Regions from separate parts of the Homo sapiens genome. Here region 2 is reported to be linked to region 1. The links are microRNA targets in miRTarBase. Many come from high-throughput screens and were not tested one by one. Region 1 holds a microRNA gene; the other region holds the end of a gene's coding sequence. Distances are from middle to middle.
What was found. Region 1 holds the annotated microRNA hsa-miR-1295b-3p (AAUAGGCCACGGAUCUGGGCAA, at 3,037-3,058, opposite strand). A microRNA usually pairs through its seed, bases 2 to 8, with sites in the 3' UTR of a target mRNA and lowers its output. Matches are read on the target gene's strand: a 7mer-m8 pairs with bases 2 to 8, a 7mer-A1 pairs with bases 2 to 7 and ends in A, and an 8mer does both.

Region 2: the mRNA of KIAA1614 is a reported target of hsa-miR-1295b-3p. Seed matches in the 3' UTR shown: 7mer-A1 at 3,168-3,174.

Annotation. Positions count from the first base shown.
Region 1 is chr1:171,100,155-171,104,834 of GRCh38, reverse strand. MIR1295B (microRNA 1295b) reads right to left here and starts at 3,096; the gene lies at 3,037-3,096. It overlaps FMO3 (flavin containing dimethylaniline monoxygenase 3), which reads right to left. Exons shown (of 9, transcript NM_001002294.3): 3 at 862-1,050. It overlaps MIR1295A (microRNA 1295a), which reads left to right and starts at 3,029; the gene lies at 3,029-3,107.
Region 2 is chr1:180,945,150-180,949,149 of GRCh38, reverse strand. KIAA1614 reads right to left here. Exons shown (of 9, transcript NM_020950.2): 9 at 1-3,847. The coding sequence ends at 3,562. Among named protein-coding and RNA genes, the nearest start is that of KIAA1614-AS1, 7.7 kb to the left of the region's middle.

The sequences.
Region 1 (4,680 bases):
TGGCGTGATCTCAGCTCACTGCAACCTCTACCTCCCGAGCTCAAGCAATCCTCCCACCTCAACCTCCCTAGTAGCTGGGACCACAGGCATGTGCCACCACATCCAGCTAATTTTTGTATTTTTTGTAGAGACATGGTTTCTCCATGTCACCCAGGCTAGTTTCCAACTCCTGGACTCAAGCAATCTGCCTGCCTTGTCCTCCCAAAGTGTTGGGACTATAAGATGGGCCATTGCACTTGGCTCCTGTTGTTTATTTTATTAGTCCTTTCAAATAATTAACTTTCAATTTGTACATATGCTTTTTTACATTTTATAAATTTATTTTATATCCCCTTCATTCTATGTTCTTTGAGTTTATTCTGTCTTTCTTTTACTAATTTTTTTAAACTTTCTTACCTTATTTTTAAACTTTTTCATTTTCTAATATAAACATTTACATTTATAATTTTCATGAAAATATAGCTTCCTATGTTTCCCACAAGTATTGATACATAGACTAAATTAACATTCAGTTATAGATATTTTTAAATTCCCATTGAAATTTCTTCTTTGACCTATATGTTATTTAGATAAAAAGAGTTTTTAATTTCCAAATTCACAGGTATTTTATATTTATTTCTTTGGTATTGATTTCTAAATTAGTAGTGATTTAGTCTAAGAACTGTAGGTGGTCAAATTTTGTGAATTTTCTATGTATCCTTGAGAAGAAGGTAATTCTCTAAACCTAGAGTTAGAGAGGCCACACTGTTAAAAATGTTGACAAATTAGAAAGGGAAACTGAAAGGAACAAATGAGAATCCAGTAGTAGACATAGACTTCTTCAGCATTATGACAAGAGCTAAATTGTTGATAACATCTTACCTTAAATTGTATGTACTTCAGGAGGTTCTTTTCTTTGGCAAATGCAATGATATATTCCTGGATCTTGCTGTTGTGCATAAAGTTGGGGAAGTCATCGGGAAATGGGAAGTCTGGGAAACACATCATCTCTTTGGAAGAGTTGGAAAAGACTGATTTGTAAATGCTAGCCCTGCCCTCCTCTGCATGGTCCTGTGAATGTATAGTATCAAATGGAAGCGAATTGGTAAATGAGTATACTGATCATGGTCAGGGCTGGTTCCAAGTAATTACAGTCATCCCTTGGTATCTATGGAAGGTTCCAGGACCTCCGTGGTTACCAAAATCTACGAATGCTCAAGTCTCTTACATAAAATGATATAGTATTTTCGTATAACCTATATACAGATACTTTAAATCATCTCTAGGTTACTTATAATACCTAATGCAATGTAAATGCTTAATGAATAGTTGTAGTGTATTGTTTTTTGATTTTGATTTTGATTTTTTATTTTTATTTTTGGATTTTTTAAATCAATGGTGGGTTGAATCTGTGGATGCAGAACTTGCAAAAACAGATGGCCAAGTGTATACTTATTTGAGTCATCCTTTATCCACAGTAAATTCGGTAAGACACACATAAATTAACTTCACTTCAACAATTGATGCTAATCATGGAAACTTACTAAGGGAACTTAGGATATGGAAGAATACCTTTCTTAATATCTTTTAAGAAAATATATCTTAATCTTTTCTAAGGGAAACAAATTTTAAATTTCATTATGTCCTTTAGGCCTATGTAACTAGAATCCTTTCATTCCCTTGAACCATTAAATATGGTGACAGAGATTTTTCAAAATTCAACCTTGCATAATTTCAATGTGTCAACTCATGAGCACAAGCATCTAATGGTCAATTTATAAAAGCAAACAGTAACAAGAGGTTGCAACTATTGATCAGATTTGTAAATGTAAGCATTTTAAGACCTAATTTTTAAAAAATTAACCTTAGAATTTCTATAATGTATAAAATAAGGTTAACTATTTTGAATCTAACACAGAATTTATGGGCATTGCATGCCTTTTAAGCACTTATGTAAGTAACAAAGTTTTAGCTTTCAATGATGTAAAAATATCTGAATTTTCTTTAACTCTAAGGAATTATAGAACTATGCTAATAAAGCCTTAGAGGAAATGTTAAGTGATGATGAATAAAGAAAAAGAACATTGAAGAAAGAATGATCAGTAATGAGAAGTTTAGGATATTGTGTTGTGGTTCTTTAGCCACACACTGAAATAAACTGGGAGCTTTAAAAAACACACTGAGCATTAGGTCCCACTCTCAGAGAATTTGATTTAATTGACAGCAAGTTTTAAAAGCTCTTCAGGTAATTTTAAGGTGCAGCCAAGTTTGTCAGTCACAATGTAGAGTTCAACAAATGGAAGCTCATGACCAACAGGCTACAGTTACTGTGGAAGAGCTTACCATAGGACACATCTGTTACAGCTGTGAGCTCTGCAAAGCAAGCTGTTGAATGAATAAAAGGCATTAAGTTAAAAAAAAATACTGGTTGGAGCATGATTAGGAAGAGGTGGAGCCTTGGTTTAGCTCTGTTGAAGCATCAAGGTACTTATATCTCAAGTTTCATGATGAAAGATCAGATTGTAGATCTCTATGTGTAGTTGCTAGTTCATAGTGGAAAGTACTGAGCACTAGAAACTTCTAATTAGAGCTCATCTAACTGAAAGTTGTCAGGGCTCCCAGAACATGAAATTTTAGTATAATATTGGAATATTACAATCACGTCAAAAGCCAATGTGGCTGCAGTTTCATTATTGACAAATAATTAATTGGCAGATTAGTTGCCATGTTCATTTCAGAAAGCAGCGTGTTCTTTAAATAGGACATGAGTTTTCTGCTGCTCACATGGTTTGTTGACTCTGCTATAGGCATGTGGGATGGGGAAGTGCAAAAATTTGTAGCTTTCTGTGAGTTGGGTAAGTTTAAAGAGATGATAATCAGCATAAAGAGAGAAGAAACATTAAAGAAAAAAATTGATACATAGTCCAGAAAAAAATCAGAGGAAGTTAAAAAAGGGAGGTATTCCCAGAAGAAAGCCACTATTCATAAAACTTCATGCAAAAATTCATATGATTTACTGATTTATTGTTTGGGGAGCTCCTGAGAAAAGAGGACATTTTGCCCAGATCCGTGGCCTATTCAGAAATGTGGCCTGTGATTAGGCCGCAGATCTGGGTGAAATGTCCTCCTTCTGTGACCAAAGAAGGTGAGGGAAATACATCATCGTGGCTCTAGATCAGGGTTAGAAGTCAGAACTAGAAGGGCATAGAAAGTGCTGTAGTAAACAGCTCCAACAGTTTCAACTATATGCACCCTTAGTGTTAGCTAAGTTTTAACCAATGTTTGGATCTCTCTGAAATTTAAAAAAAGTTAAGATAATGTAAAATGATGATGTTAGAAACCAAAGGGAAGGCAAATACAAAATTAGAACAATTTTATAACAATCTTATAATGTGAATACTAAGCCTATTGCTGCAGACTTCTAGTGATCTGAGAAACACTGCTGTTTGCTCCATCATTTGCAATCTATAAGCCCCCTCACAGTAGTAAAATAGGAAACGCTGAAAAACCAAAGGTATTAGTTTCTTGTGGCTGCTGTAATAAATTACCACAAAGTTAATGGCTTAAAATAATAGCAATTGATTCACAGTTCTAGAAGTCAGCAGTCGGGAATCACTATCAGTAGGCTGAAAACGAAGTGTGACAGTACCATGTTCATTTTCAGAGGCTCCAGGAGAGAATCCATTCCTTGCCGCTTCTGGCTTCTGGTGGATGCTGGCATTTCTTATTTTTTTCAGTGGCAAGACCCCTCTTGTACGCCTTCACTCATGGCTCCTCTGGCCATCATCAAAGATAGAGCATAGCATCTTCAAATTTCTCTCTTTCTGTTGAGGTCATCACATCACCTTCTCTCTTCTCTTTGTGTTAAATCTCCCTCTGCCTCTCTCTTTTAACGATGCATTCATTATAGCGTTTGGGGCTCACCCACATAATGCAGAAAAATCTCTCCATCTTAAGATTTTTAACTTAATTATATTTGCAAATACCCTTTTCTCTTGTAAGTAAGATAACATTTACAGGTTCCAGGAATTTGGATGTGATATCTTTGAGGAGGGGCATTGTTAAATTGTTCAGCCTATTACAGGCCATCCTCTGGTTCCCAAGGATTCACATCCATCCCATCTGCAAAATACATTAACCCAATCCCAACATCCTCAAAGTCTCAACCCATAGCAGCATGAAATCAAGTCTCAACTCTCATTTATATATTTTCAATTCAAAAGTCCAAAATCTCATCATCATATAAATTATCTAAATCAGGTATAAATGAGACTCTGGATATGGACCAGGATGAGGCAAAATTTCTATCTGTGAACCTGTGAAACTAGAAAACAAGTTATCTTCTTCCAAAATACAATGGTGGGACAAGCATGGGTAACCGTTATCGACATTCCCATTTAACCGGGGAGGAAAAAGGAGGAAAGAAAAGAATCACTAATCCCAAGCAATTTTGAAATCCAGTAGGACAAATTCCTTCAGGCTTGAAGGCTTTGGCTCAGGCCTCTGCCCTCAGGGCCTGAGGCTCTACCCTCTGGGCTATCCTTTCTTTTTCTTGAAGGGTAGCACATGTTGCAGTTCAGTTTTATCAACCTATGCTGCCAGGTTCAAATTTTAAAGTCTTCCTCGAGCAGCAAGAAAAGACAAATTAGCTGTCTTTGGCTGTGTTCCTCTCAATAGCCATATCAGCAGTGCGTTCTATCT
Region 2 (4,000 bases), 9.8 Mb from region 1:
ACTGTCTTCACTTCCTTTTCCTCGAATCAGGTTCTTAGCAGGGGCCCGAAAGGGCATCAGGTCTGCTCCTCAATCTCTGGCTTGAAACTAGTCACCACATCTTGGACTAGTGGGAAGTCCTCTCTCGGATCCCCCAGCCCCGTAGGAGCTTTGGGCAGCCCAGCCTGTGGCCCTGACAGAAGTCAGGCGTTTTAAAGCCTGCCTCTGAAGTGTGGGTTTGAAAGAGCACTGATCTTCACCGAAGTACCTGAAAGTCTGTGGCTCTGAATTTAGTAAATCCAATCTTTGTACACATTCCCCCTCCCTGGTCTGAGGTGTAGAATCCCTTTTGTTGCTTCTTGGCCAAGCCGAGCCTTTTCTGTGGGGCTGTCTTCCCTGACAGAGTACATCTGCCATCCTGACTGTACAAGGCGTTTTCCCTCAGCCCTGTCTTTTACCTCCTCTAGATGGACCTTTCACTGCTTGCCCTCCCTGTCTACGGGTTGGTGGCACGGGGAGGGGGCAGGTAAGAAGGGGCCCCTGGGGCAAACCCAGAGAAGTGTCTGATGTGCTGTGGGAGTTGCAGGTGGGGACTAATGATAAACCCTGAAAGAATGCTGCCAGAGCTAGGCCAGACACTGACGTCACGCCTGCCATTTTGGGGAGACTCGGGTAGGTTTCGCAACTGAAATTCGTGACACAAATATGACAGCCTGCTGTCATAGGCATTTATTGTCTGCTGGAAATGGCCTTTGTTGAGGATGTGTGATCTCTATGTTGTATCCAATTAGAAGCAGAAGGCAAAGCCTGCTGTTCTCACAGGCTCATATAGAGTCGGATGTGAAAGCCAGCAAGTTAATACCAGCATCCTGCCGGTTCAGTGCGGGGCGCAAGCCAGCCCTCCTCACAGCCCCTTGGAGCCTGGAAGAAGCGACCCTCTGCTGTTGGAGGATGGCCTGGGACACGGAGGCCCCAGCACTCGCCAGGCTTCATGTGCGTGGGGACCCCTGTGTGCCATCCAGCGCCCATGATGGCAGCAGGACCAGGGAGTGCCTGGGCACAACGGGGAGCTGGCACCAACTCAGGCGAGGGTGCCGGGGGCCCTGGGTCACTAGAGACCCCTGCCCATCAGAGCTCCCTGACGGGTGACAGGGAGGGGCTCCCACTGCCTACAAGGGAGCAAAAAGGGACTCTGGGGGAGGGTGGGCGGCAGAGTACAATGACCTGTTGTGTGTGCACTCACATCGACAGGTGAATGCGGATCACGCTGGTCCCTGTCTGGGGTTCTCTTCCCCAGACTTTCTCTTTCTGAAGGGGAGGGAAGAAAAATGCTAGGCCCTTTCCTGTGTGCCTTACCAAATGCTCCTTATGACTCTTCTAGGTAGGTTTTGTCATCCTCATTTCACAGATTAGGGAACTGAGTGAGGCTCAGTGGGGATGTCGCCTGCTCTAGATCACATAGCCAGCAGAGGTGCCGGAGCACAAACATGCTGCGTTGTCTGCCTCTGCCTTCACACCACCTGTCCGGGGGGCCTGTCCTGCTCCCCTAACGGGAGAGGAGGCTACGGGAAGGCCTGTGAGGAAGGACTTTTTATCCTCCTGAGGTCCAGAGTAGGCAGAGACCTGTCCTCTCTTCCTCTTACATGTCCAGCTCATCAGCAAATAGTCAAATCAACCAGAATCCAACCCCTGTCCCCTCTCCCCTCTCCCCATCTCCACAGCCGTTCCCAGTCCAGGCACCACTGTCTCTGTCCTGGACTGCTGAAATAGCTTCAACACAGGGCTCCCTGGCTCCACCCGTGTCCCACTGGGGTCTATTCTCATAGACATTAGAGAGTCTCAGTGCTCGCTCCGAGCCCTCTAGTGGCTCCCATCTCATTCGGCATGAAAGCCAAAGCCCCTTACAGTGGCACAACCCCATCTTTCCAAACTCTGCTCCTCCCAACCCGTTGCCTGCTCTGCAGTGTCCAGCCTGACCCTCACAGTTCTCACAGGCCAGGCTCGCCCCTCCACCAGGGCTCCGCACTTGCTGTTCAGTCTGCCGGAATGCTCTTCCCCAGACACCCATGGGGCCCCTTCCTCGCCCCATCCACGGCCCTGCTCAAGTGTCATCTTCTCAGAAAAGCCTCCCCACACTCCTGTCTATACCAGCACCTGCCACACCTGCTTTATCTGTCTGTTTCTCAGAACTTTCTTTTCACCATCTGACATACGTAGCACATTATACATAACAAGAGTACACATTTTATAGATACAATCTAACTGCTCACTGGGTAGTATATTCATGAGGATAGGGATTTGGTCTGTTCCATTTACTGCTGTATCCCCCGTATCTATAACACATAGTAGGTGCTTAGTATATATTTGCTGAAACAATGATGGAACAGACATGAGAACTCATGCTGTGGTCTGCAAATGTGGTAGCAGGCAGACTTTTTTCCAGGCTAAACAGCATTGAGCTAGGAGATCAAAGCACAGGACTCAACCCCCCATCGGCAGAGCCCGGCCGCAGCAGGCTTCTGTGTTCGTCTTTCTGTATCTGTCTCTCCCTTTCTCTCTCCTTCCTTCCCCTCCCCTCCTTCCCCACCCTCACATACGTGTCTTCCTTCCCTGATCCTCTGGGGAATGTCTTTTATGGGCCCTTGAGATGCATTCTGGACCACAGACCTTGGGCGTGGGCTTTTGCAAGTCACGTTGCCCTGAAAGACTCATGGATGGGGTGGAACTGAGAACTGGTCAGAGTGCAGAATGATGTCCAGGACTTCTCCCTGCCATTGCCTGGGTTGAATTGAGACCCAGAGCACACCCCAGTCAGAGGCCTGCAGCCAGGATTCATCTGAACATAATCATCGGGCACAGGCCTGAGGGAGGGACGGGATGCAGAGACAGACAGGCATGCTCCACGTGCCCAGACATACTCCACAGCCGGAGGAAAGGAACCGTTTCAACGCAGCCACATCAAAGGGACTGCTGAGAACCAGCAGGCACAGACAGTTTCCCTCTGGCTCTCCTCTGCAAAGATGGCCTTCAAAATTCTAATTTATTTATTTCTTTTTTTTTTTCCTTTGAGATGAAGTTTTGCTCTTGTTGCCCAGGCTGGAGTGCAATGGCGCAATCTCGGCTCACTGCAACCTCTACCTCCCGGGTTCAAGCAATTCTCCTGCCTCAGCCTCCCAAGTAGCTGGGATTATAGGCATGCGCCACCACGCCCAGCTAATTTTGTATTTTTAGTAGACATGGGTTTCACCATGTGGGCCAGACTGGTCTCGAACTCCTGACCTCAGGTGATCCAGGCGCCTCGGCCTCCCAAAGTTCTGGGATTACAGGCATGAGCCACTGCGCCCGGCCTAAGCTTCTAATTTCAAGATGTCATCAGACAGCAGGGGGACAGTGGAGTCAAACCTGCCAACTCTACCCCCTCCCGCACACTCCCCACCAACGCACTCTCAGCTGCAGTTGCCTAGGGCAAAGGCTCTGCAGGTGCAGACTCCTAGAGAGCCCTGGACAATTCAGAAAGAGCCCCTGAGGGGAGAAGCCTAGTCCTGTAGTCAGAGGCTTTCTGAATTCCCAGAGCTGCACGGCTCAGCCAAAGACCAGAAAAGCCTCTGACCACAGCCAGAAGGCCCTGCCTTGTTTGCTAAGGCCGCCCCAGCCATGGGGCTGAGGAAGAGGAGAGGGCATACCTGAGTCTGGGCGCCCATTCCCAGAGGCCACGCAGAAGCCGAAAGTGCCCCCTGGGGAGCGCTGCAGCTGCAGCTGGCTGGTGCCGTCTGGGAACACCTCCACCAGGCGGCCCACGGTGCGAGCCAGGCTGGGAGCACCCACGTCCTCCACACTGAGGGCACGCCGTGGTGAAGTCTTGGCCGGCCTGCGAGGGAACCAGAGACACAGTGAGGGCAAAAAGCATCAGGCACTGGGCACAGCTCTTCCCTGGCTTACAGATGACCGATGCCTCACAGACTTAAGAGCCTGGCATTGGAGGCTGGGGTTCTGCTGACTTCAGCCAGCAAAAAGAGCCTGC